Regions from separate parts of the Homo sapiens genome. Here regions 1 and 3 are each linked to region 2. The links come from fine-mapping of genetic effects on gene expression. A gene starts in region 2. Each other region holds a variant in brackets. All regions are shown on one strand. Distances are from middle to middle. Region 1 overlaps CAPN3 (calpain 3). Region 2 holds the start of ZNF106 (zinc finger protein 106). Region 3 overlaps STARD9 (StAR related lipid transfer domain containing 9).

Region 1 (8,392 bases), 79 kb before region 2:
AGAGAAGGGGAGGCAAAGGCTGAGACAGAACCAGCTTGAGAGCGGAGGCGCAACTCTTGTCTCCTGGTGGCCTTGAGCATTTCACAATAGGGGGATAAAGGATAGGAGCAGAAAAGTGGGGCTGACTTCAGAAATGGGGTCCTCTAGAGCTCACGGGAGGGTGTTAGATTGGAGTGGGAGCTTAGTGGAGGTGAGCCTTAGAGGCAAAAGTCTCCAGACCAATCCAGGGCCCCTCTTCTATCCGGGGGCCCCTCTTCTATCCAGGGCCCCTCTTCTGTCTGGGAGCCCCTCTTCTATCTGGGGCCTCATGCAGTGGGGCCTAGGGGAGGTTCTCTGAGGACTTGGCCTTGATGACAGGGTGGCTGGAGGAATCAGAACGGTCAGACCTTCTTTGACCTGCGGGCACCTTTAGTTGGAATGGTCAGGCCTGGGATGGTGGAGGGGGCTCTTGCAGGTGGGGACTGGGGTGGCGGGGAGGAGGCTGTATGGCCGCCATATCTCCTTTGGCTGGGGGCGTCAGGGCTGGAGAGGTGTGAAGAGTCCCTGAGGCCTCGATGCATCTCACTCCAGCTCACCAGGTCTGCATTTGCCCGTCCCCAGCTCCTGCTGCCACCTCCGGCCGTTTTAGGCACTTGGCTCCCTTGGCCCAGAGGAGCTTGCCTCACAGGCCTGTGCACCTCTGACCCCTGTGAACCAGTTTTCCTTTGTGCCTCCACAGCCACAGCCTGGCAGCTCTGATCAGGAAAGTGAGGAACAGCAACAATTCCGGAACATTTTCAAGCAGATAGCAGGAGATGTGAGTACCTCCAAGCCCAGGACGCCCACAGGTGCTTCCTTCTCTCCTGGATTAACTGCTCAGATTACCAATTATTTCATTATTGTTTGGTAGAGGTCACTTTGGACTTTGGTGGAGCCAGGGGATGTGTGCGTAGCACACAAATCCACAAGCCCTTGAGTTTTGGACTGCCACGTCTGCTGGGGGGCTCAGAGGCCTTTTTGCTCTGAGCTGCCCACGGTGGTCCTGATAGCTGAGGTGCAGTATCTGGCCCCCTGTCTTCCTCAGAAAAGCCCCAGCTTCCCATGACATAATAGCACCGACAGGGATTTTACAAACACAGCCAGGTGGAATTTGTTTTGCAAAGTGTCCGCGCCAGGAGCTGCTGTACTCCTGAACCATGACCCTCCTCTCCCTTCCTCCTCAGGACATGGAGATCTGTGCAGATGAGCTCAAGAAGGTCCTTAACACAGTCGTGAACAAACGTGAGTTGCTCAAACCAAATGGGGGTGGGGTGGGTGGGGAGTCCCGTTGTCTCAAAGCAGCTCCTCACTCTTCTCCATCCCCCCAGACAAGGACCTGAAGACACACGGGTTCACACTGGAGTCCTGCCGTAGCATGATTGCGCTCATGGATGTATCCTTCCTGCCGCCCCTTCCCGACCCTCTGTCATCAGCCCACGGGGGCCAAGGCAACATACAGGGTGCCCAGTCAGGCAAAGGGCCCTAATTTGTGCCCAGGGAAACTTAAGGAGACCCTGATTCAGAACATCTTGGATACTCGTCTGAAAGGGGTTGTTAGAGGCGGAAGGGGAGGATGTTGGGTTGTAACTGCCCTAACCCCTGTGCTTCTCTCAGGCCTGGGATCCTGCCCAAGCAAAAGTGGTCCTTAGGAGAGCGGCTCCTGGGTTACAGAGTAGGCGCAATCTCTGACTGGTGGTGGAGTGGAGGGGAGGGTTAAATAGTACAACAGGGCAGTGGGTAGGACAGCCCGGAGTCTCCTAGACCCTCCCTCCAAATCCAGGGGGATTTTGCTGTGTGCTGTGTAGCCCTGACCTCCCTCCTCCAGACAGATGGCTCTGGAAAGCTCAACCTGCAGGAGTTCCACCACCTCTGGAACAAGATTAAGGCCTGGCAGGTGGGAAGAGAAAATGAAGCGTGGGAGTCAAGAATGGGGTTGATTTGGAGATTCAGTGTGTGACCTCCATCCTCAAATTTTCTATTGCCAGAAAATTTTCAAACACTATGACACAGACCAGTCCGGCACCATCAACAGCTACGAGATGCGAAATGCAGTCAACGACGCAGGTGCTGAGAAGGAAGGGGTGGCAGGGATGTGGACCCGAGACGGTGGGAGCAGGAATGGGAGGGGACTAGGCTACTAGGGCCCCACTAGAGAAAGGAGAGGGAAAGGGCTTCTCACTTTCCCTTCCCAGGTCACAGAGTGGCCGAGAGGCAGGGAAAATAGAAGGCAGGCCCAAGGCCTCCAGCTCCACGTCCACCTCTAACATGGTCCCCTCCACAGGATTCCACCTCAACAACCAGCTCTATGACATCATTACCATGCGGTACGCAGACAAACACATGAACATCGACTTTGACAGTTTCATCTGCTGCTTCGTTAGGCTGGAGGGCATGTTCAGTAAGTGGGAGAGGGGGGCTGCCCTCTGCTCTCTTGCAGGGGCAGTTGTGGCAACAGGCATCTCACCTGATAATCTCCAGTCTGCTCCATCCAGGCTGAACAAGGGCCAATGACCTCTTTAGGCCCAGAATGGGATGGCAAAGGGAGGGTTACTGGTGATTCTCTGCCTGCACATCTTTGTGCTGATGAGGGACAGCACTGGGCACATGGTCCTCTGAGGGGAAGTTACAGTAGTAGAGGCGGAGTGCGCCTGTAACTGGCCTCTGGCCTGTGCATTCTTTCACAGGAGCTTTTCATGCATTTGACAAGGATGGAGATGGTATCATCAAGCTCAACGTTCTGGAGGTAAAGCATAGGCACAGCACATTCCCCCTACACATTAAAACTCAAGGTGGAGGGGTCAACGGGGCGGACTGGACCCAGGGTGTGCTCCTCATTTCCACACAGTGGTGGAGGGAAGGGATAGGAACAGAACATGGAGGGAGGCTCAGCAGGCTCCCAGGACACATGCACTTGAGGCCCAAAAGGACCTCTGCTCCCCCAGTCACTTGATGCGGGAAAACATGCACCTTCTTAGGGAAGATCTAGGAGAAAGGAAACAGTAAGCCACTGCTTCTTGGAAAATCTTCTGGGGGTCTGACCTGCTGGGACTGTTCCCTTTCCTCTTGCCCCGTAAGATTCCTAGGGCGGGGGGGGGGGGGGTCACTCTTTTCTGATCTACATTCTGATCTTGGGACTTCTTTCAGTGGCTGCAGCTCACCATGTATGCCTGAACCAGGCTGGCCTCATCCAAAGCCATGCAGGATCACTCAGGATTTCAGTTTCACCCTCTATTTCCAAAGCCATTTACCTCAAAGGACCCAGCAGCTACACCCCTACAGGCTTCCAGGCACCTCATCAGTCATGCTCCTCCTCCATTTTACCCCCTACCCATCCTTGATCGGTCATGCCTAGCCTGACCCTTTAGTAAAGCAATGAGGTAGGAAGAACAAACCCTTGTCCCTTTGCCATGTGGAGGAAAGTGCCTGCCTCTGGTCCGAGCCGCCTCGGTTCTGAAGCGAGTGCTCCTGCTTACCTTGCTCTAGGCTGTCTGCAGAAGCACCTGCCGGTGGCACTCAGCACCTCCTTGTGCTAGAGCCCTCCATCACCTTCACGCTGTCCCACCATGGGCCAGGAACCAAACCAGCACTGGGTTCTACTGCTGTGGGGTAAACTAACTCAGTGGAATAGGGCTGGTTACTTTGGGCTGTCCAACTCATAAGTTTGGCTGCATTTTGAAAAAAGCTGATCTAAATAAAGGCATGTGTATGGCTGGTCCCCTTGTGTTTTGTTGTCTCACATTTAGATATCAGCCATGCATGACTGAATGGCTTCCAATCATATACTCACCTATCACCTACAAGAGAACAATGAAAAACACACACAAAAACAAAATCTTGAATTTTGTAATCATGCCTATTGCTATTTCTTGAGCATAAGAATGGCTCAGATACTTTCCAAGACATAAAAGGAAGGCAGAGGAATAGTTGTTGCTGTAAAAGACATCAAGAATAAATGGGTCATGTACAACGGGAGGGGCCGGTTACCTGAATAATGGAGTGGAGATTGAGCTATCCTAGCTCCTCTGCTCACTAACTGACCTGTCGCATGACCGTGGACAAAACCCTGAACGCAGCTGTTTGTTTGCTAAACTTCTCTGGACCATGGCCTGCGGCATATCTATAGGCATCCTGTGTTTTCCACCCAGTTTCCTTCTTCCTCGCTAAGCCAACGTGGAAAGGGCTGGCCGTGAATATGCAGACAAGGTAACGAAAGTAAACCGTCAATTAGTAAAAGTACTTTATTTTCCTCTTGTATTTGCTTTATATCTTGCTTTACAAAGTTACGAAGTTCACAGCTTTATACCAAAATGTAAGAAGGCTATTTGCTTATAAACATTTTTGCAGTCAGGTGTCATCTGATTTCATTCTTCTAATCCATATTCAATATTAAAAAAATCAGAAACCAAGGGTGCTGGAGCAGCTCTAGGGCATATATTTCTCTTAAATAGGAGAAAGATTTTCAACAGCTTTTCCTCCTTGACCCCCTCCTTTCCCAATTTATTTGGGTCACTACCTTGAATTTAGAGTGAATCTGGGAAATGTAGTCACCAGGTAACCCAGCAGGGCCATATACTTGGGCTTGGAGGTGAGGTTAGAGGTTACTGTCTAATACAGTAGGTCTGGTTTCTATGAGGAGCTCATATCCACTTGCATAAGGAAACCTAGTCTATCCCAAATCACCTCCACCACAACTTCTATTCCTGTCTATTAGACCACTTCTCTTAAACCCGAGGAACCTGATGATTTGGGGGCAGGGATAAAACCATTATTTTATAAATGTGGCAGGTATGGCCTTCGTAATTCTAGAAGCTCCCGTTTAGGTAACAGAAACAAAATTTAGATGTAAGCATAAACTGCAGTTATTTGAGCAAACCAGAGCATATGTGCTGTTCAAATCCCACTTCACAATATACTTCAATCTCACCTCCAATGAATTCTCTTCCATAAAATAAACCATTCCACTAAGTATATACCTACTCCCACCAAATCATCCACATGCCTCATCACTAAAGTTGTCCCTTGTATAATCTACCAGCAAAAAGACAAAATAAAACCTGTGTTAAGCAAATAATCACTTAAACAGTAATAATATTGCCTCTAAATTAAAGGTAAGTCAGGAGCTGAACACTCAACTGTTAACTCTTCTGGGGAAGAAGAAAATTTTTCCCACAAAAGCAGGAGTGCAGTAGTAAGTAATGACTTTCTCTCAGATTCAAGTAACATCAGGTCAAGATAACCTTTGCTGT[T/TA]AGAGTTTTGTTTGCATGGTGTGGAACTGCTTTATAAACTGAGTAGAGACGTATGCCAAAATTATTTTTAACCTAATTAAAAACTTTCACAGAAAACTTGAAGTGACTGATACTTTATCACAACGAACTGCCATTTAAACACTAGCATAGGTACACAAAAAGATTTATACTATGGTTTTCTTGGCTTTAAGCCATTAGAATTAGACAAAAGCAACCGAGAGTAACATTCTAAAAGTGGCTTCAACTACTTTAAAGACATGAGTCAGTTTTTGTCAGGTCATTTAATGGTTTCTTTCCTTCACAAAGCCACTAAATGCCAGAGTCAACACAGATCCCTGAGCCATAGCTCTTCTCTGAGGGGAAACAGGGTTATAATCAGTCACAACATTGTGGAAGACATTAAAAAAAGAAGGCAAAGTTCTGTATAATTTTCAAGACTCTTGTAAGTAGTAACACACAGCCATAAGCAGCCAAAATGCTTATGGTCCCTTTATTTCTTAATAGAGGGCTAGAACCGTTCATTTGGGGTAACACACTAATCTGGTGTTAAAAGAATTTCATGTGTTCTTGAAACAAAGGCATACTGCCACTGCTTCAAAAAAAGCCTTTGTGAAATGAAGAAAAATATGACAAACACAGGTTCCCACACGTACACATACATACAAAGGAACCTGCACACTTGCACACACACAGGCAGGTATAGGCACACAGTTCCACCAAAGCGAAGTCCAAATCAGAGTTCTTACCGATTCTACCACTCTGTAATACTCTCAGAAGTTCCCACAACTGCCCAACACCTCACCTACCCGTTTCCTGCTGCACAAAGTCTCCTTCACTCTCATCTTTTCGATACATCGTCAGGCAGGGCAGAAGGGCACTACGCCGCAGAGCATTCGAGGCTCTCAGCACACTGCCAGCCAGCGTGAAAATGCGGCTTCACTACAGCCCAGAGAAAAGGGCCAGGTTTAGTCATCGATCCAGATGCATTTTCCCGGGAAATGACCATTCCCAAACCCACAGAACAGTTTGGCTTCTCTGGATATCCTTATAGGAAATAGGGGTGAGAGGTGGGAAAAGCTTCTCAATCTCATACAGAAACAGCACAAATATTTAATACACCTTTTGCAACAAGATCTTCTCTGTTCTCCATTAAGCATCATGTAAATCTCACTAGTGTGGTTAACAAAATGGCTTTCCCCAAGGACAGAAGTCAAGAGCTTGTGGGGCCATATATTATCTAGTACTAGGCCATTCATTATCTCCTAGATTAACTCTTTTTTTTTTTTTTTTGAGGTGGAGTTTCACTCTTGTCGCCCAGGCTGGAGTGCAGTAGTATGATCTTGGCTCACTGCAACTTCTACCTCCAGGGTTCAAGTGATTCTCCTGTCTCAGCCTCCTGAGTAGCTGAGACTACAGGCACATACCACCACACCCAGCTAATTTTTGTATTTTTAATAGAGACGGGGTTTCACTATGTTGGCCAGGCTGGTCTCAAATGCCTGACCTTGAGTGATCCACCCGCCTCGGCCTCCCAAAGAGCTGGGATTACAGGTGTGAGCCACCAGGCCCGGCCTCCTAGATTAATTCTTGACATTTTTTGGATCAAGTAAGAACCACTGGAGCCTTTCCTGGAAAAAAGAACACATACTCAGTCTCACACACAATTTCTGGGGGCTCACAGACCCTCTTGAAGCCTATCCATAAACCCCCTGGTGAAGTCCCCCTGCCCGATAGCCTGAGGGAAGACATGTGAGTGGATATATGTGCACTAACAGGGGCGAAGACAGACCTGGATGGTCTGCAATCCCAGAGAGCATGAGGCACCATGTCCCAAAGCTTGGTATGTGGCCCTGGGCTCCTCCCCCAATTTTATCTCTCTGAAGAAGCTGAGTTTTTTTTTTTTTTTTTGAGACGGAGTCTCACTCTGTCACCAGGCTGGAGTGCAGTGGCACGATCTCAGCTTACTGCAATCTCTGCCTCCCGGGTTCAAGCGATTCTCCTGCCTCAGCCTCCTGAGCAGCTGGGATTACAGGCGCCCACCACGCCCGGCTTTTTGTATTTTTAGTAGAGACGGGGTTTTGCCATGTTGGCCAGGCTGGTCTGCAACTCCTAGCCTCAGGTGATCTGCCTGCCTCAGCCTCCCAAAGTGCTGGGATTACAGGCGTGAGCCACCACGCCCGGCCACGTTCTGAGTTTTGAGGATCCAGAAACAAAAGGCTGGAAAGCGACACTTCTACAGGTTTACTGATGAGTCCGGAGAAAATCCAAAAACAAAGCCCCACTGAGGGTTTGTGAATTTGGCTGTTCTCAGTGGCCAGGCAGAGTCTCTGCTCCACTCTTCTTTCCCAGCTAGCAGGGAAGTGAAGGCAAAGAACTGTCTCAGAAACAAGTCTCTAGGAAGTCTGCTTGAGGTCCTGAAAACTGTATTCAGATGCTTTATTCTAACCCCCTCTCCCCCACCATCTTAGTTGCTGCAGGGGGGTGGAAAACACCCCGTGAGCCCAGAGGAATATTCGATGGCTGCCATCGGTCTAGGCACGGCCATACAGTGGGAGAGATGGAGGCTGGCAACTGAACAAACCAAAAGGGTTCAAACCAACATTAGGCTTGCAGGGTCAGACACTAGAAAGGAAGATAAAGGTACACCTCCAGTTCAACAGCCTGACAGGATCTGTAACAGGTAGTGCCCAGGTTCAACAGCAGATGTAAAGGTAGACGTTAGGTCTACGCACTGCCTCACACTGAGCTTTCTATCCACATTTACAGAGATTTACTAGAAGTGGTGTCTGTAAGGACTTGTCACTATGTGATTTGCTTCCTGAATTCCTAAAAGATAGTCAGCAGAGCAGCCACTGTTTGTCAAAAATCTACTGTGTCCTTTAGCACTTAAAGCCAGCTCTATCTATAAAGCAAGAAAACAGTGACACACACTGCACATAATTGTTAAGAAAGAAAACTATTTGCTTCCAGTTTAAATACCCAGCTATTACAAATGGAGAAATTAAAACTGATCCTCAAAGTCTGGCACTTAAACAAACTTGTACTTAAAAGCCTGACTATAGGTTTAAACCATCATAAGAACATAAATTAAAAATTGCAAACTGAAATCAATAAAATATACATATGAT
Region 2 (10,317 bases):
CCTTCCACCTCAGCCTCCCAAGTAGCTGGGATTACAGGTATACGCTACTATACTTGGTCAATTTTTAAAATTTTTTGTAGAGACAGGGTCTCGCTTTGAAGCCCAGGCTGATCTTGAACTCCCAGTTTCAAGTGTCCTCCACCTTGGCCTCCCAAAGTGCTAGGATTACAGGTATGAGCCACCATGCCCAAGCTACTCTTTTTTACATCTACGTATAGCTCACATTTATTTCAATGTTTAGTATTAGAAGTGTTTGGGGTCTTCATTTAGAAGTTTGGTGATGTTCTTGTGACCAGAAATATGCCATAGGAACTTAACTCTTTTTTATATCAATTAACCTGTGGCAAAATTAGTTTTGTTATTATGCTGTTTTGCTTAGAGTCACAGTTTCCAAGATCCTATTGATGTTAAGTGAGGACTTGTTATATATATATATGTCAAGGCACCATATTGTACACAATAAATACATATATTTTATTGCCAATTAAAAAATTAATTTTTTTGGCCAGGCACAGTGGCTCACGCCTGTAATCCCAGCACTTTGGGAGGCTGAGGTGGGGGGATCACCAGGTCAGGCATTTGAGACCAGCCTGGCCAACATAGTGAAACCCCATCTCTACTAAAAATACAAAAAATTAGCCAGGCATGGTGGCAGGTGCCTGTAATCCCAGCTACTCGGGAGGCTGAGGCAGAAGAATCGCTTGAACCTGGGAGGCAGAGGTTGCAGTGAGCAGAGATCGTGCCATCGCACTCCAGCCTGGGCAACAAGAGTGAAACTCCATCTTTAAAAAAATAAAATAAAATAAAATAAAAAAGCTTATAGGGAAAATATGGCCTGGATGCAGTGGCAGCACACTTATAATCCTAGCACTTTGGGAGGCTGAGGCAACAGAATCACTTGAGGCCAGGAGTTCAACACCATTCTGGGTGACACAGTGAGACCTCCTCTTCACACACACAAAAAATTTATTAATTAGCTGGGCATGGTGGCACGCACCTGTAGTCCCAGCTACTAAGAAGGCTGAGGTGGGAAGAGGATTGCTGGGGCCAAGGAGTTTGAGGGTGTAGTGAGCCATGATCATGCCACTGTACTTCAGCCTAGGTGACTGAGCAAGACCCTGTCTCAAAAAAAAAAAAAAAAAAAAAAAAGCTTTTAGGAAAAACTATTACTACCCCCTCCTGTTTCCTAGCCACCGCCACTTCCAGTCAGCCACTCTTGTGAGTTTCTTATTTGTTTTCCAGAGATATTTTTCAATTTTTTTGCATGAAAATACAAAACATAAAATTTACCATCTTAACCATTTAAGTGTAGTTTAGTGGTATTAAATACATTCATAATGTTGTACAACCAACACTACCATCCGTCTCCATAACTACTTGCATCTTGCATAACTGAAACTTTATATCCATTAAACAATAACTCATTTCCCCCTCCCTCAACCCCTAGCAACCACCATTCTACTTTCTGTCTCTATGATTTTGACTATCCTCCACAGAGGATATTCTATGCATATATGGTTGTCCCTCGATATCCATGGGGGATTGGTTCCAGGATCCCCCTCAATACCAAAATCTGAGAATGTTAAAGACCCTTATATGAAATGGCACAGTATATGCATGTAACCTACACATACCTTCCGTATACTTTAAATCATCTCTAGATTACATGTAAGACCTAATACAATGCCTACACATAACTTCATTTATGTGGATGCAATGTAGTATGTACTCAGCACGTAGCAAATTCAAGTTTTGCTTTTCAGAAATTTGTGAATTTTTTTTCCCCAAATATTATCCATCCAAAGTTGGTAGAATCCATGGATGCAGAACCCATGGACGGATATGGAGGAACAATTGTATATGCAATACATAATATTTTTATAAAACCACAGTGGTTGCAAAATGCACACCCTCTTTTGCACCTTTTCTTTCTCACTATATGGGAGGTCACTCAATATTAGCACATATAGAGCTGGCTCATTCTTTCTAGCAAATTCATACATTTATTTAACCAATCCTTCACTGATGAAGACCTGGGAGCTTCTTGATAGTTTCTTTCAGATTAAAACATGCACAAACATGCACACACACACACACACTCGACTGTAGAGTTTCCACTAGTGATTTCACATGCTAGAGGTCCAAGTAGAGCATTCATATGTAACTTGTCTGCCCAGGTGCTCTTATTCATTGGGTACAGAAATTAATCCTAAACTCTCCACTAAGATACTCCCAATTACAAAACACACAATACATAGACTTCTCACTGAGCCATTCCTGGTCCCAGAACCAAGTCGTCTAGCATCTTCCATTCCTCTCAACTCTTGTAGAGCAGCCTTCAGACTACACGTGCACTAATCTAGATGTACAATAATCACTATTCATAGTCTTTCCTTTTTAAATATCTTCCTTTTAATCAAAACAATTGAGGCCGGGCACTGTGGCTCACACCTGTAATCCCAGCAATTTGGGAGGCTGAGGTGGGTGGATCACCTAAGGTCAGGAGTTCAAGACCAGCCCAGCCAACATGGTGAAACCCCGTCTCTATTAAAAATACAAAACGTTAGCCAGGCATGGTGGTGGGCACCTGTAATCCCAGCTACTCGGGAGGCTGAGGCAGGAGAATCACCTGAACCCAAGAAGCGGAGGTTGCAGTGAGCTGGGATTGCGCCACTGCACTCCAGCCTGGGCGACAAAGCAAGGCTCTCTCTAAAAAAAAAAAAAAACAACACACACACACACACACACACACAATAGGTTCTGAACTAGCCTGATCAGATTCGTTCACACCCTCTACCTCCTGCCAGGCCATTTTTTATTATTTTTTAATTTTTTTTTTTTGAGATGGAGTTTCGTTTTTGGAGTACAATGGCACAATCCTGGCTCACTGCAACCTCCGCCTCCCAGGTTCAAGCGATTCTCCTGCCTCAGCCTCCCAAGTAGCTGGAATTACAGGCATGTGCCATCATGCCCAGCTAATTTTGTATTTCTAGTAGAGACGGTGTTTCTCCATGTCGGTCAGCCTGGTCTCAAACTCCTGACCTCAGGTGATCCGCCCGCCTCGGCCTCCCAGAGTGCTGGGATTACAGGCGTGAGCCATCGCGCCTGGCCCCTTCCAGGCCATTTTAAAGTTCTCCTCGAAAACCATCTAGTATTTCTAATTAAAGGGCTCCTACTATCTTCTAGACTCAAGAGTTAACTCTAGGCATGGCGCGGTATTGGCAAATGTGTAGTAGATACTAAATAAATTCTAGTTGCATCTGAAAATTGTCTTTCATTATTTCATTCACGACCAAACTTGAGAACGGGGCTTAAAGCAAATTTTAAGATTTCCCATGCTATTTACAACAGTACTAAGCTCTTAATAAGCACTCAAAAGTTATCTGTGGGCCGGGCGTGGTGGCTCAAGCCTGTAATCCCAGCACTTTCAGAGGCCAAGGTGGGTGGATCACCTAAGGTCAGGAGTTGGAGACTAGCCTGGCCAACATGGTGAGACCTCGTCTCTACTAAAAATACAAAAATTAGCCGGGCGTGGTGGTGGTGCACGCCTGCAATCCCAGCTACTCGGGAGGCTGAGGCAGGAGAATCTCTTGAAACTGGAAGGCGGAGGTTGCAGTGAGCCAAGATCCCGCCACTGCACTCCAGCCTGGGCGAAAGAGCGAAACTCCGTCCTAAAAAAAATAATAATAATAAAAATAAATAAAAATACAAAAAATTAGCCAGGTATGGTGGTGGGTGCCTGTAATCCCAGCTACTGGGTAGGCTGAGGCAGGAGAATTGCTTGAATCCAGGAGGCGGAGGTTGCAGTGAGCTAAGATCGCGCCACTGCACCCCAGCCTGGCAACAAGAGCGAAACTTTGTCTCAAAAAAAAAAAAAGAAGTTATTTGTGCTTTGAATAAACTGGATATAAACCATTATGGTGGATACAGCACTTATTTGCTAGGTAAGAGAACTTCGCTTACCTAGGATGACAGTCTCAAGTTGCTAAAAGCCACGGATATCTCAAACTTCTCAATAAGATGCCTTAATCTTACTCTCAAAGATGATTACACAACAAATTGAAAGGGGAAGAGGATGTAAAGCATTTCCTCTCCACAATTATACACCGAGATTCGGACTAAATATTAAACGGACACAGTAAGCTGTTGTTACTATTTGTTATTAGTTGTTATTATCAAGACGCATCCCACAAGGAGAGAAACGAAAGGAGGAAAAAGAACGGAGGTTGTCAGTCGCGAGAGGTTGAAATGTGTCCCTGGCCTGAGACCTACGGGCTTTAAGGACCAGGGTCTTTGGACTCCCTGCCCAACTGGGGACGAAGGAGGTCAGTGGCTTCCCCTAAAGGTCAAGGCTTTGGAGCCACGTTTCCTTCTGGGGCTGGGAGCAGAGCTGGAACGCCCCCGCGAAAATCCGTACCCCGAAGCCAGCAGCACCGCCTGCCCATAAACCCGCGCCGGCTCTGGGAGAGTGGACCACCAGGTTGCCCCTGAGCCGCAGCCTGCAGGAGTAGAAACCCGGTGGTGTCTTGCAGCCCCACAACCTCCCTAAGGGGCAGACGACCAGGACCCTTGGGCTCCGATACGCTCAACGCAGGCCGGCCCGTCGATACTCACATTCACAGCCAACCCCTCTTACTCCATCAGGCCGCCGAGAGCCAGGCGAGGGAGCTCCCTGACGCCTCAGACGCCCCCTTCAGTTTTGGGTCCGGGAGCCTGCTCCGGACCCGCTCCCCGCCGGGCCCCGCCACAGCCGCCGCCAACGCGCAGGCGCACACCGAAGCCGTCACGCTCGCTTTTTTTTCCTTTGCCGTCCGCAGTTCTCAATAATCTAGCTTTATTTGAACACAAGAGAGTGAACAACGGACACACAGGAAGAGGTTTTTCTCAAAAAGAATGGAGGAAGAACAAAGGCAGGCCCGCTTGCGGGAGAGTCAGTACGCAGCGTTGGACGCTATGAACAGCCTCCCTGGTCCCTTTTTCATTCTCCTTGTTTCTCCTTGTTCTTTCCCGGCCTCCCTGTAGCTCCTACTCTCTTCCTTGGTGTCCCGCCATTTCCTTTAGTCAGTGGCAACTGTTCGGGCTACATTTTGAAAACACTCCTTCCTTGTAAAACTTTCTGAAGTTGAATGGAAGGTGCAAGAGCTTTAGAACAGCCAGACCTGAGTTTCAGATCTTGGACTAGCTACGAATAATTTGTGACTTTGGGTAAATTACAATTCTTCTTGGAACCTCAGGTTCTTGAGTTAAAATTAGGATAATGTTATCTCACAGGGTGTTGCTAGGATTAAATAACATAGGTCAAGTGTTTATCTATGAATGCTGCCTATCACAGAGCAGACATTCCATAATACTGACTTTATTCTTACTCATGCCTAAGGTATTTATAATATTTTTTAAGTAGAGACGGGGTTTCACCATGTTGCCCAGGCTGGTCTCAAACTCCTCGGCTCAAGTGATCTGCCTGCCTTGGCCTTCCAAAGTTCTGGGATTGCAGGTGTCAGCCACCGCGCCCAGCCTACATTTATTATTTATTTATTTAGTTAGTTAGTTAGTTAGTTATTTTGAGATGGAGTCTTGCTCTGTCGTTCAGGCTGTAGTGCAGAACCGCTCTCTTGGTTCACTGCAACCTCCACCTTCCGGGTTCAAGCGATAATCCTGCCTCAGCCTCCCAAGTAGCTGGAATTACAGACGTGCACTACCACGCCCAACTAATTTTTGTATTTTTAGTAGAGATGGGGTTTCGCCATATTGGCCAGGCAGGTCTCAAACTCCTGACTTCAAATGATCCGCCCACCTCGGCTTCCCTAAGTGCTGGTATTACAGGTGTGAGCCACCGCGCCCGGCCGCCTATATTTATTATTAAACTTAGCCCATACCCATTCCCTCAGAAACCTAATTTTAGTGACTAAGACTATCAGATAAATGAAATGACATTCAGGTTGATAATTATGTGGAGTGTCCCTCCTATATTATTGAGATTATAACATCTCTGTTTAACAAGACCTTCAACGTCTCAAATAAAAGTAAGCAGCGGTGGGGCACAGTGGCTCACGCCTGTAATCCCAGCACTTTGGGAGGACGAGGTGGGCAGATCATGAGGTCCAGAGATCGAGACCATCCTGGCCAACATGGTGAAACCCCTTCTCTACTAAAAACACAAAAATTAGCTGGGCGTGGTGGTGCGTGCCTGTAGTCCCAGCTACTCGGAAGGCTGAGGAAGGAGAATCGCTTGAACCCGGGAGTCGGAGGTTGCAGTGAGCCGAGACCTCGCCCCTGCACTCCAGCCTAGCGACAGAGCGAGACTGCGTCTCAAAAAAAAAAAAAAAAAAAAAAAGAGAGAGAAAAAAGAAAGGAAGCGGCTATATTAACCTCTTCTATGTAAATCCAGATTTGTTCTAGAGGTTTAGGAAACTTCCAATTCCGTGTTTGTGACATCACAAGTCCTTGAAACACTCAAGGGTTGTGGTACGCTGCTCATTCTATTCTCCTTCAAAGGCATGCAATGGAGGAACTATTTTACCCTATAAACTCTGGGCCATCATTCAGGGAAAAGCCTGTAGAAGACCACAGTCAGATATTGGTGAGTGCCAAGGTAACGCTAGATTATGGTTTCTCAACTTTGGGATTACTGACATTTTGGAACATATACTTTTTTGTCAGGGGTATCCTGTGCATTATAAGATGTTTAGCAGCAGACTGGGAGCAGTGGCTCACACATGTAATCCTATAACTTTGGGAGGTCAAGGGAGGCAGATCGCTTGAGTCCAGGAGTTTGAGACCAGCCTGGGTGACATGGTGAAACCGTGTCTCTACAAAAAATGCAGAAATTAGCCGGCAGTGGTGGTGCACACCTGTAGTCCCAGCTACTCAGGAGGCTGAGGTGGGAGGATTTGAGCTGCAAAGGTAGAGGTTGCAGTGAGCTGACATCACACCATTGCACTCCAGCCTGAGCAACAGAGCAAGACCTTCTCTCTCTCTCTCTCTCTCTCTATATATATATACATATATGTGTGTGCGTGTGTGTGTATGTATGTTTAGCAGCACTGTTGGACACGATGCTAGTAGTACCCACCCCCGTTTCCCTGTCATCACAATAAAGCATCTCCAGACATTGCCAAATATCCCCCGGAGGACAAAATCGTCCCTGGTTGAGAACCACGGAATTATATCAATGACCATCACAACCCTAAATGAACTAATGAACTCAACCATACATTTTCTCCACCTCTGCCCTCAACAAGTGACTGCTGCTTGAGAAATTTACACAGGAGGGCAGAAAATGGTGAGTTCATTTTTGCCCATATTAAAAAGGCCCTCAATATTGCTTACCAGTCCTACAACATTCTTCTGTCAACTTGTTGTATTACTTTCTACAATATTCCAAATCTTCTCAGCTTTCCTTTAAACTCCCAATACCACCTCCTTTTCTATCAGAAGATGACCCCATCTTCAACTTCACAGAGAAAACAAGTCAGCAAATGAGAACTTTAACTTCCTGTTACTAAACATACAGAAACATACTTCCTCTCATAATTGGGGAAATATCTCCTCTCTCTCTCTTTCTCCCTCCCTGCCCTCTTCCAAAACCATTATTCTTACCAGTGTTTCGAACTGCCTCTAAACTGCCTCTATTCTTACCCTTTCAAGATCTTTGCCTACTGACTATCCCTTCTCTTCCTTTATTCAACCATTTTTTTCTCAGTTGAATCTTCCCTACCATGCTCAAGTTTCTCCTGTCTTAATTCTAACAAAAATCAAAAAAACAAAAACAAAAAATCTTGATCCTTCATCATTCTCCCTCCTTCCTCCCTGTCAAGGCCAAACTTTCCAAAAGCATTCTACAACTTGTCCCCATCTCTACATCTCCCCCACCTCCAAACTACTAAGTTGTTTTTTTCAACCCCAGCATTCCAACAAACAGCTTTCACTGAGATAATCAGTGACCTCTGTGTTATGAAATTAAAAAAAACATTTCTCAGGCTTCATCTTCCTTGATCCCTTAGGAATAGACTACTTACTCCTTGAAGCACTTTTTTTTTTTTTTTTTGAGATGGAGTCTGGCACTGTCGCCAGTGATAGACATTATGATAGTAATGTAGCTGGGATTACAGACACCCGCCACCACACCCAGCTATTTTTTCTTTCTTTTTTTTTTTTTTTTGTAGGGGGGACGGAATTTCACTCTCGTTGCCCAGCCTGGAGTGCAATGGCATGATCTTGGCCCACTGCAACCTCCGCCTCCCAGGTTCAAGCGATTCTCCTGCCTCAGCCTCCCGACTAGCTGGGATTACAGGCGCCTGCCACCATGCCCGGCTAATTTTTTGTATTTTTAGTAGAGATGGGGTTTCTCTATGTTGGCCAGGCTGGTCTGGAACTCCTGACCTCGTGATCTGCCCGCTTCAGCCTCCCAAAGTGCTGGGATTGATTACAGGCGTGAGCCACTGTGCCTGGTGAAGCACTTTCTTTTCTTGATTTCCAGCAGTTTATTTTATTCTTAGAGGTGCATGGAGGGGTTCCTGCAGCAAATAGTTTACAATAATCCTCCATCTGCTTAAAACTCTTCAATAGCTTTCAGTGCCCCTAGTACAAAGTGGTCTAAAATTCCAAGGCCTTCCAAGATCTAGCGATTGTTGGCCTTCTAAAGCTTTCTTTCCTCTACACTCGGGGATGTACGATTAGCACTAAGCCTCTAACAAGGATGAACTACTAGAAATTTCCAGAAGGCGTTATGCTGTTCTCGACATAAGCTGTTCCCCAGAGCCTGGAAAACTCTAGCTCTTTCTCTGCCGGATTTCCGGGGGAACTCCTACTTATCCTTCATGACTCAAGTCACTTCCTCCGGGAACCCTTCCAGACACCCCTAAGAATAAAACGCTTTGTTCATTATCAGCCAAAGGCGCCTCAAATTTTCTATGTGCTATGCACTGTATTCTATCCACTATAATTTGTTTACATATCTATATCTTAGTCTAGACATATTGAAAGGCGATGAAGAGCAGGGAAAGCACTGTATTCGCTTTCTTTTCTTCAGCGTTCATCCAGCACAGTGCCTGGCATACGGTTTGCCCTCAGTAAATGTTTATTGCATGAACACCTCCCAGCTTCGGGCAGGACTGAAATCTATCCGGTTAACTAGTGAATTCCCAGACTCTCCGTCTGCGTGGCAGGGACATTTAAACCCCCAGCACCGTGATTGGCTCCAGCTGCAGGGGTGTGTCTGTGTCCGCGGCGAACGGGAAGTGAGCAGGCGCGCGGGCTCGGCGCGCGCAGGCGCGACTAGGGTGCAGCGCCAGGTCCGGTGTTGGGGTGTCCGAGTTGCCGCCGGAGAGGAGTGGCCTCGCCCGCTTGGTGAGTCTCCAGGAGTGGGACGGAGGGAGCTGGCCGGGATGAAGTCTGAGACTATGTCCTGAGAAGAAAGAGTGTATCGTATTGGTTGAAAAGTTGGTGGGGTCGGGCTTAAGCGGAGGAGGGGGCTCTCTGGCCCTTACTCGGCAGATGGGCCCGGAGAGAGGACGGGAGGTGCCGGGAGAACATCGAGGGACCAGTGGAGGAAGGGTAGCTGGATGGTAATTCTCTGGACCCTTCCTCGAAATTAAACAGAGATCACTTTCCGCCCCTCACCCTTACTGTGTTGCTGTAGTTGACATTAATAGACTGCCTGTATGGTGACCACAGTGATCAGATAGCTCTGAGATAATGGCTTGAGGAAGGACTCTGAGGTTCCTGGTATTGGATAGCCCTTGCTCTCTAGAAAGGTTCAGCCTTACCTCGCGGCATTACTGCACAAATTAGAGGATCAGGAAAAGAATGAATTTCACAATTCGGGATTGGAGTGGTGGGGGGAAAAAGTACTGTAAAGTGTAGTTTCATCTCGTCCTTTTTTTCTTCTTTAATCAGTCACCACAATGTTAGGAAAGGCAGTTGATGGTAGGAGGAAACGTAAAGACATAAAAGTGGGAGAGGAAAAAAAAGTCAAGAAGGGAGTATCATTTTGCCTTTTGCTATTTGTCATCTCCTGGAATGGGGTCTGTATTAGTGCGTTCTCACACTGCTATAAAGAAGTACCCAAGGCCGGGCTTGGTGGCTAACGCCTGTAATCCCAGCACTTTGGGAGGTCGAGGAGAGAGGATCATATGAGATCAGGAGTTCGAGACCAGCCTGGCCAACATGATGAAATCCCATCTCTACTAAAAATACAAAAATTAGCCAGGCGTGGTGGTATATGCTTGTAATCCCAGCTACTCCGGAGGCTGAGGCAGGAGAATCACTTGAACCTGGGAAACAGAGGTTGCAGTGAACCGAGATCGTGCCACTGAG
Region 3 (10,317 bases), 110 kb after region 2:
CAAATATACATGAAAACACCATCTTGTTTCACTACTTTTTAATATTGGTGAGGGCTCGTTCTTTCTCAGACTGTCCTAGTTATTTTGGTTATTGCCCTTCCCCAAAATGCCATATCTTTCTCTGCTTTTGCTTATATTGGCTCCTCTTCCTAGTGTATATTAATACATCTCACCTCTCCAGTTTCTATCGTACAAAATACTGCTTGTTCTTTAAGGTTCAGTTAAAATGATGCTTCTTCCTTGAAGTCACCATCTCTTGGATTCTCATAGTATCTTGTTACTCCCTTGTGATACATTCTGTTTACTAACTAAAGTTAATGCTCTTTGGATACAAGGCTTATCTATTTTATTAGTCTGAGTGATCCTTGAAGGCAGACTAGGTCTCATCTATCTTTGAACATGCCACGTTTCCTAGCACAGTGACCATTCATTTATTCATTCATTCAGTAAGCATTTAGGAAGCAACACATGGGGTTTAGTGCTGCGAGGAATACAGAGTAGTAGATGTGATTCCTGCCCTCAAAAAGCTTACAGTCTTATTGGGATTACCAGGCTTTAGGTATGTAAAGATCATCAAGAATAACAAGCATTTAAGTGTTATAATCGTACTTAGAGTAAGTACTTAAGGAATCCAGAAGAATAACATATCCAAAGTTTGTTTTGAATGAGTTCAGGGAGGGTCATTTTGGTTGGAGGGGACAGCTTAAAGACTCTAAGGCAGGAATGTACACCATGTGTTTGAGGGGATCAGGTGGTGCTAGTCTGGGTGAAACTAAGAGGATATAGTCACAGTGCCCATCTTTCCAAGTGTTTCAGGAGGCCAGACTCCTATATTTCACCTCTAAGCTGGTCCAGACTCCTAGAGGAGATGAAGACCAAACGGTTTCTCTGGTACAATGACAAAGTGGTTTCAGAAGCGTACTGGATACTTAGTTGAGTCCAGCCTATATAGGACATGTCATCACTCCCATTCCAGGAAGCAAGAAAGGGAGGATGGGTGCTTTCCCTTTAGATAATTTGGAGGAGCTATGAGGACTTTTAACCTGAGGAGAGGAAGCAGTGTATACTGGATACAAGGTTATAGGTTACAGAAAAAGCATTCTTCACTCAACAAACATTTATCTATTATATGCCAGGGATGGGCTAGGTGCTGGGTAAACAAATGGGGGGTGCTTGTGCATGTGTGTGTGAGAGAGAGAGGGTTTTGCTTCGTTTCTTTCTTTCTTTTTTTTTTTTTTTTGAGACCAAGTTTCGCTCTTGTTGCCCAGGCTGGAGTGCAACGGCACGATCTTGGCTCACTGCAACCTCTGCCTCCCGGGTTCAAGCGGTTCTCCTGCCTCAGCCTCCCGAGTAGCTGGGATTATAGGCATGCACCACCATGCCCAGCTAATTTTGTATTTTTAGTAAAGATGGGGTCTCTCCATGTTGATCAGGCTGGTCTCGAACTCCTGACCTCAGGTGATCTGCCCATCTTGGCCTCCCAAAGTGTTGGGATTACAGACATGAGCCACAGTGCCAGCCTGCTTCGTTTATCTCACTTGATATATCTGTTTTTCTTTCTTTTTTTTTTTTTTTTTAGTATTTATTGATCATTCTTGGGTGTTTCTCGGAGAGGGGGATTTGGCAGGGTCATAGGACAATAGTGGAGGGAAGGTCAGCAGATAAACATGTGAACAGAGGTCTCTGGTTTTACTAGGCAGAGAGCCCTGCCGCCTTCAGCAGTGTTTGTGTCCCTGGGTACTTGAGATTAGGGAGTGGTGATGACTCTTAACGAGTATGCTGCCTTCAAGCATCTGTTTAACAAAGCACATCTTGCACTGCCCTTAATCCATTTAACCCTTAGTGGACACAGCACATGTTTCAGAGAGCACGGGTTGGGGGTAAGGTTATAGATTAACAGCATCCCAAGGCAGAAGAATTTTTCTTAGTACAGAACAAAATGGAGTCTCCTATGTCTACTTCTTTCTACGCAGACACAGTAACAGTCTGATCTCTCTCTCTTTTCCCCACATTTCCCCCTTTTCTATTCGACAAAACCGCCATCGTCATCATGGCCCATTCTCAGTGAGCTATTGGGTACACCTCCCGACGGGGTGGCGGCCGGGCAGAGGGGCTCCTCACTTCCCAGACGGGGCGGCCGGGCAGAGGCGCCCCCCAACCTCCCAGACGGGGCGGCGGCCGGGCGGGGGCTGCCCCCCACCTCCCGGATGGGGCGGCTGGCCGGGCGGGGGCTGCCCCCCACCTCCCGGACGGGGCGGCTGGCTGGGCGGGGGCTGCCCCCCCACCTCCCGGACGGGGCGGCTGGCCGGGTGGGGGCTGCCCCCCACTTCCCGGATATATCTGTTTTTCTACAGGAGGGTTTTCTGAGCAAAACTCTCCATTGTCGGTCTGTTAATATATTCTTTATTTCACCTATCAGTGCAAAGATGGACAGTGTGTTTGATTTATATTCCACAAACCCTATAGCATTAAGTCTAGCGTCAGCAGATGATCTGCAAAAAATTTACATTTTGCTCTATGGACTCTAGAGCCTATTTTACTTTATTTTATTTATTTATTTATTTTGAGGCAGTCTTGCTCTGTCACCTGGGCTGGAGTGCAGTGGTGCGATCTCAGTTCACTGCAACCTCTGCCTCCGGGTTCAGGTGATTCTCCTGCCTCAGCCTTCTGAGTAGCTGGGACTACAGGTGCGTGTCACCACGCCCGGCTCGTTTTTATATTTTTAGTAGAGACAGTGTTTCACCATGTTGGCCAGGCTTAGGTCTTGAACTCCTAACGTCAAGTGATCCACCCACCTCAGCCTCCCAAAGTGATTACAGGCATTAGCTGCTGCACCCAGCCTAGAGCAAATTTTAATTTAGTGTTTGTTTCCTACACCAAAGGCAGGCAGAGTCTTTGTCAGACATGGCAATAGTATGCTCTGGCTTCTAGAACATGGCTGGGTGACTTTATCTCTTAAAGCCAAAGCCAGAAATTGATAATTTACTATGAAATATTTTGGGGCATTTCCAGTTGCAGGTTTTGATATACCTGGCTAAGGTATGGTATGTTCAAGGTAGAGGGGTCGTGACTGCAAGTTGTCCAGGTTCTTGGTGTTTTGAAGAAGGAATTGGACAAAATGCCCAGTAAAGCAAAGAAAGAATGAAACGAGAGAATGAAAGCAGGGATTTATTAAAAATGAAAGTACACTCCACAGTATGGGAGCAGGCTGAGCACTGACTCAAGGGATCAGATACAGAATCTCCTTGGGTGCAAATACCCTCTAGAAGTTTTCCCATTGGCCACTGCATGCTCACCTCATGTAAATGAAGTGGTAGCTTGCAATCTGTCTGATTGGTTGCAGAAGGCAGTCAACCAGAGCCTGAAGTGAAGTTGCAAAAGTCACACTGCTGTGCAAACAGAGGTTAGGGTGAAGTTACAAAGTCATACCTCTATGGTAAACGAAGAAGACTCGGCCAGCAATCAGCCTGATTGGTTGTAGACAGCAACCATTCAGAGCTGTGGAGTGAAGTTACAAAGTTGCAAATGAAGCCAAGACCCCCAACTCCTTCATCCCACCCCTTTTGTTACTTTTGTTACTTAGGCGTGGAAAGTCTAGGGTTTTCCTTTCAGTTTAGTTCTGGGAAGTTGGCGTGAGAGCCTTAGGTTCCCTGCCTCTAGACCCTATTCTCCTGCCTCATATCCAGTATGGATCCTTGCTGCTACTTGCTGCTCTTTCTGAACTGCATTTTTTGGGACTGGAGTTTGGCCTCATATATTCTTTTCCAGGATAAAGTTTGAGGTGGTTGTTACAATATGTTGGCTCCAATTATTCTGTGATTTACATATATTTACACAAGCCCACTTTCCAGTAAAAATAGACTTTTTATTTATTTATTTATTTATTTTCGAGACAGAGTCTTGCTCTGTTGCCTAGGCTGGAGTGCAGCCTGCCTCAGCCTCCTGAGTAGCTGGGACTACAGGCACGTGCTACCACACCTGACTAATTTTTGTATTTTTAGTAAATATTGGGTTTCCCCATGCAAGCCCAGCTGGACTCGAACTCCTGACCCTGTGATCCTCTCAGCCTCCCAAAGTGCTGGGATTACAGGCATGAGCCACCATGCCAGCCAAAAATAGACATTTTAGAATTGTGAGCAGGTGTGGAGGTGAAGAGGAAACAATTTGTGTCTTTGTTCTTGTAATCACCAGATTACAAGGTTCTTGCCTGCTGCCCCATAGAGCCAATTTACCGAGACAGTGGAATCACAATAAAGAGTTGAATAAACACAGAGCCAGCTAAGCAAAAGCCCAGAGTTTATTACTCAAATCAGTCTCCCCAAATATGTGGAGACGAGGGTTTTTAAAGGATAGTTTTGCAGGCAGGGGGCTAGGGAATGGGGAATATTGATTGGTTGGGTCTGGGATGAAATCATAGGGGGTCAAAGCTTGTCTTCTTGTGCTGAGTCAGTTATTGGGTGGGAGGGCCACAGGACCAGATGAGCCAGTTTTGTAAGGTCTGGGTGGCACCAGCTGGTCATCAGAATACAGGGTCTGAAAAATACTTCAATTCCTATCTTTGGTTCAAAGAACCAAAGGAAAAATACTTCAGTTCCTATCTATAGGAGCAATTGAGGAGGTTAAGAATCTTGTGATCCCTGACTGCATGACTCCTGCACCGTAATTTCTAGTCTTGTGGCTAATGTGTTAGTTTTACAAAGGTGGTCTGGTCCCCATGCAAGGAGGGGGTTTGTTTGGGGAAGGGGCTGTTACCTGTTTCAAAGTTAAACTATAAATTCCTTCCTTAGTTAGCTTGACCTGTGCCCAGGAGTGAACAAGGTAGCCTGGAGGTTAGAAGTAAGATGGAGTTGCTTAGGTCAGATTTCTTTCACTGCCATAACTTCCTATGTCAGATTTTTCACTGTCATGATTTTTGCAAAGGCAGTTTCAGTCTGTCTGCTTCTACTTGTTTGATCCACGCTTCTCTTACCTGTCTCTTAAATCAACATCAAATTTGATTTTTTTATTTGTGGAAGCTCATAAGGTCATATAATATGTGATTATTCTACCTCGTTCATTCATTCAGCATGCATTTACATAAAAATATGCCAAGAATTGTGCTAGGCACTGGAAATAACCAATAAGAACCAACATTGTATTTGTCCTTTAAAAACTAATAGTTCTTGACAGAGACAGATACTAAAGAGAGAATTACTCCACAGTGTGGTAAATGTTATCATATTTTAACCAAGGATTTGAAAAAACGTGAAGAGGGAGGAAGATTGTTTTTGTCAGGGGAGGAAATCTAGTTCATAGTATGATTGCTTTATTCAGGATCAAATTGATTTTTTTTTTTTTTTTTTTTTTTTTTTTTTGAGACAGGGTCTCTCTCTGTCCCCCAGGCTGGAGTGGAATGCAGTGGTGTGATCTTAGTTCACTGCAGCCTTGATCTCCTGGGCTCAAGCAATCCTCCCAACTTAGCCTCCTGAGTAACTAAGACTACAAACATGTGCCACCACACCTGGCTAATTTTTTATTTTTTGTAGAAACAAGGTCTCACTATGTTGCTCAGGCTGGTCTCTAACTCCTGGGCTCAAGTGATCCATCCACCTCAGCCTCCCAAAGTGCTGGGATTACAGGTGTGAGCCATCGCGCCTGACCTGGATCGAATGGAATTTAAATCCATATATTCTGTTCCAAAGATGAGAAGGACATTTCTTCTTAAATCTTGAGGGTGCTGTTTCATGTACATAAATTTAACCTCACAGCTTGGTGAGTTTCCAAAAAGATCAAAGACTTCTCAAAGCATCATATGAATTATTCACTAGTCCTAACATGGAGCTCTCTCCTGAGTTTTATTCTGGATGCCATTTAATCTTATAATAAAATAGATA[T/C]ATGAATCATTTGGTTGAGGCTGCTACTTAGCATATTAACTTGATGTATGGTCATTATAGAGGGGCTGGATTCAGATGTTTGAACTACAGCGAAAACCTTTCTGCAGGAAAGGCAGAGTTGACAGTTTCTTATTTTTCAAGTATGAGGCAAAGGAACATGAGCTATTTATAGACTCACTTCCGCAACAGACTGAACACAATAGAAGCCTGAAATCAAATGGTGACCAGATGTGCCCAGGCATCCCCCAAGTCTAGGTGTCAAAATTATAAAAGACAGAGCCCCTGGGGAATTGGTTTCAGGGCAGAAGCAGTGCACTTAAGCCCATAAGATCACCATCTGTATACAAATAGCCCCTTAAACAGCTGGTCCTCAGGAGTGGAAGAGGTAAACAACAGTGTGTTCAAACTCACTTTTCTTGCTTCTCTTCCTAGAAGTGGGGGATAATCCCTTTGTCAATAACTTTATTTCCCAATTCTTGTCTCTCTAGTTAGGCAGTTAGAAAAGATACAGCTGCGTTCTGGGGATATGCGCTGAATTGGTGTCCGAGGAAGATTAATGCAGCTTCCATGCAGTTGGTGGAGATCATGGTTCTGCTGAGATGAGAAGACATCTGACAGGGATGGAAACCCATAATTACTTTTCTTTCTTTACTGTTCCTCCCCTGTTAAACTAATTTCATCTTGTTTGTGGTGGTGTTGTGGCGATGTTTAAAGCACAAACATGTCGTGGTCTCTGGCTGGTATTGCTTTTCCTTTTCTCCCGCATCAGAGATTTTAAGAAAATACAAACAACTTCCTCTTTCCATAAACATCTGGAAACATTCCCATGGAGTTTAGATTCAATTTCAGGGTTTGGAAAAGTTGTACTTAATTTTGGAAAATGTTCAAACCAGCTTGCTTCAATGGGAAGGGAGAAAAGAAAATAGCACTTTTTGAGAACCTACAGTCTTCCAGGTACTGTATTGAGTACTTATCACCTTCACAACAACCCTGTAAAGTGGGTTAGTACTCTGTTTTACAGATGTGCTTACTGAGGTTCAGAGATGAAGCCCAGTTTTAGTCCATTCTACTGTCTCACCACATCCTGCTACCTTTGCACTCCTTCTCTGTGCTAACCTCTAATACTTGGAGTATGACATGAATTAGCTGACAATTGGAAAATATTGGACTGTTAAATCTTGCATTTACTATAGGAAAAGACCAAGAGTCATGAATATAGAACATGTGTTTTCAAGCCTCTCTATTGGCCCCTCTCTCTGAGATGTGCAGAACACCACCTATTTTTAGTTTTGTTTTTTGAAACAGGGTCGGACTCTGTTGCCCAGGCTGGAGTGCAGTGGTGTGATCTCAGGTCACTGCAACCTTCACCTCCTGGGCTCAAGCCACCTTCCCACCTCAGCCTCCCAAGTACCTGGGAACACAGGTGCGCACCACCACACCCAGCTAATTTTTGTATTTTTTTTTTTTTTTAAGATGGAGTTTTTCCAAGTTGCCTAGGCTGGTCTCAAACTCCTGGGCTCAGGTGGTCCTCCCACCTCAGCCTCCCAAAGTGCTGGGATTACAGGTGTAAGCCACTGCGCCCAGCCTATTTTTAGTTTTGTATCCAGAGTAAGTGCTTGTATACATGTACAGTCAGGGTGCTTTCTTCTGAATCCCCTGAGTAGACCTAACTGACCCAGCTACTCTCTAAGGCACAAAAAATAGCTCACCCATTATAGCAAATGGATGCTTCATTTCACTCATTCTGACCCAGAGGCTGGGTTTTGAAGTGTACTTCATTGATTGATTGATTGACAAGGTCTCACTCTGTCTCCCAGGCTGGAGTGCAGTGGCGTGATCATAGCTCACTGCAGCCTCTATCTCCCGGGCTCAAGTGATCCTACCACCTTAGCTTCCTGAGTAGCTGGGACTACAGGCATGTGCCACGTCCTCCACATGGAGGAGTCTAAAGTCTGTGCACAACCCTGTAACCATTGTGCTCTTTTTCCTTCCCAGCACAACCCTGCATTTTTCTGGTGCTTTTTTTTTTTTTTTTTTTTTTTTTTAAGATGGAGTCTCTCTCTGTCACCCAGGCTGGAGTACAGTGGTGCGATCTCAGTTCACTACAACCTTCGCCTCCTGGGTTCAAGCAATTCTCCTGCCTCATTCTCCTGAGTAGCTGGGACTACAGGCATGCACCACCATGCGCGGCTAATTTTTATATTTTTAGTAGAGATGGGGTTTCACCATGTTGGCCAGGCTGGTCTCAAACTCCTGACCTCAAGTGATCTGCCCACCTCACCCTCCCAAAGTGCTGGGATGACAGGTGTGAGCCACTGTGCCCACCCTCCTGATGCCTCTTTTTCTGAATAGATTCTTTCTCATCTGTGGAGTACCCTAGGAATTCCAGTTTCATATTAGAGAGGGAAAGAATAAATACAGGACCTCCAGACTGAATCTAGGAGAATCTTAATATATTATACACACACACACTTATACACACACACACACACACACACACACACACACACAAATATATATTTGAATATAATTAAATCCTATATTGTTTTACAGGTTTTTCCTAAATCCCACCTGCTTCCAAGTATTTATTTTCTAGCAAGTATTTATTTACCCCCCTCTGATCAGTATCTTCCACATAGAAGTACTTACACAGTAGGGAGGATGAATCTCTTAGGCATTTGTCAGCTCCGTTAGGATTTTTAGAGGTTTACTATGTTTTATTGAAAACCAGCCTCAAGTTCCTGATTGACTGTCCAGGTTTGTGTCAGTATATTTCTTAGTTGTCACTAACAAGTAATTGTGGAGCTGAGTGCTCACCCCCACCCCCCGCAGGTCTCTTTTCCATTATCTTATTTTTTGTTTTTTTGCATACACTTTGGTAAGTTGCTGAGACAACCTTGAGAAACACCTTTGTCCAGGGATATGGGCTAAGGCTGGAGTCAGGCTTTGTTTGCTTGGTTGAAGTGACTTGCTATGAAGGGCTGAGGTGTAAGAAGTGCCACAGACGAGTGTGGTTAGAGATCTTGTGACTCTGGCATGCAGCACTGCCCTTCTGCAAGCTAGTCTTTAGGATTGGAGGAGGGTAGTGTGGTTTGTGGGTAGTGTGGCTTGAGGGAAGACAGGACCCTGCCAGCCGGATGCGTGAGGTGGATGCTGTTCAGATGAACACATAACTAATCTCTTCAACCAGACCCTGGATTGCCAAGAATGATATGGGCTTCACCTGGGCTGGCTGAACCCAACAATGAAACCGGAATTGTCTCAGAGGCTCAGCTCCCTTGCTTCTCTTACATTAAGATTGGTCTCTAGAGACCCATTTAGACTAAACAGTATTAAAAACAGGAAATTTGCTCCTAGCAGCCTGATTGCAGGAAAAGTTTTTTCCACATAGGCAGGAATGAATGTTAAGAACAAAAACTCCATCCTCCAGGCTTGTTTTCTTATATAAAATTATTAGCAACCAAAAAAACTTGAAGCATCTTTGACATATTGGACTACCTCTCAGAGTGCTGACAGGACCCAATACCAAAAGGTGATAAAGAGCTCTTGTGAACACAATCAAAAATATGAAAACGGTGCTTTGTGGAAGATACTGACCTGGTAATGTTTATCTTGCCTGAAGATCAAATATGTGGAAATTAATGCAGAAAGGATTGGGGGAAACCTAAAGAACAGCTATAATTTAATTTTAGTCAACACTCATTTATTGTGACTATTCTGGATTCAGTCCATAGATTATGTATTCATGTATTCAGTCAGTGTTAACCGAGCATGCACTGTGCGTTGTTGCTGGGTGCCATGTCCCAGCTTCAGCCTTAGATGTGTGAGATCCTCTTTCCTCTTTGGTACCTCAGGGGCTTGCTAGGGTTTTCTTATGACAGTTCCGGGCATCCCTAGATCTAGAGACCAAACTCCTGGGACTGCTGCTCTTTTGAATGATTTTGCTGCTGAGGATAGTGGGGGGCGGGAAGGGGAATATATTGGAAGAAGAGAAAGGGGACAAAGAGAAAACTAAAAGCTAGAAAGGAAATGCTTTTTTTCTTCTGTGATGTCATTCTGCCCAAATAAGTCGAGTGTTGAAGAAGGCTTCTAAGCCCTCAGAACGTGACCCAAGTCCTCTCTCTAACCCTGGCTTCTATTCATAACCCTAATGTGGCTCAGTCAGTGTGTCATGAACACACTTCTGCAGAAGAGACGGTATGGTCAAAAGATTCTTTAGTAGATCTGTGTCATTTCTTTGCTTGTGAGGAAACAACTATTTTTAAAACTTTTTTTTTTTTTTTGAGATGGAGTCTTGCTCTGTCACCAGGCTGGGGTACAGTGGCACAATCTTGACTCACTGCAACCACTGCCTCCCAGGTTCAAGCAATTCTCCTGCTGCAGCCTCCTGAGTAGCTGGGACTACAGGCACGCGCCACCACGCCCAGCTAATTTTTGTGTTTTT

Evidence for each region. PIP is the estimated chance that this variant, and not a neighbour inherited with it, causes the effect.
Region 1: its variant is fine-mapped to the expression of ZNF106 in whole blood (TOPMed, PIP 0.91).
Region 3: its variant is fine-mapped to the expression of ZNF106 in whole blood (INTERVAL, PIP 0.95).

The regions. Positions count from the first base shown.
Region 1 is chr15:42,408,585-42,416,976 of GRCh38, forward strand. It overlaps CAPN3 (calpain 3), which reads left to right. Exons shown (of 24, transcript NM_000070.3): 17 at 719-796; 18 at 1,203-1,260; 19 at 1,347-1,411; 20 at 1,844-1,912; 21 at 2,004-2,082; 22 at 2,300-2,416; 23 at 2,703-2,761; 24 at 3,163-3,733. The coding sequence ends at 3,189. ZNF106 (zinc finger protein 106) reads right to left here. Exons shown (of 22, transcript NM_001366845.3): 22 at 4,239-8,392. Among named protein-coding and RNA genes, the nearest start is that of CAPN3, 53 kb to the left of the region's middle. The variant T/TA (reference allele first, on the strand shown) is at 5,265.
Region 2 is chr15:42,486,366-42,496,682 of GRCh38, forward strand. It overlaps ZNF106 (zinc finger protein 106), which reads right to left and starts at 4,776. Exons shown (of 22, transcript NM_001366845.3): 1 at 4,615-4,776. It overlaps SNAP23 (synaptosome associated protein 23), which reads left to right and starts at 9,269. Exons shown (of 8, transcript NM_003825.4): 1 at 9,269-9,348. RefSeq lists enhancers at 4,249-4,438, 4,489-4,538, 4,839-4,948, 8,942-9,485, 9,486-10,029.
Region 3 is chr15:42,599,303-42,609,619 of GRCh38, forward strand. All of the region lies in intron 3 of STARD9 (StAR related lipid transfer domain containing 9), which reads left to right. Among named protein-coding and RNA genes, the nearest start is that of STARD9, 29 kb to the left of the region's middle. RefSeq lists enhancers at 1,496-2,112, 9,741-10,010. The variant T/C (reference allele first, on the strand shown) is at 5,874.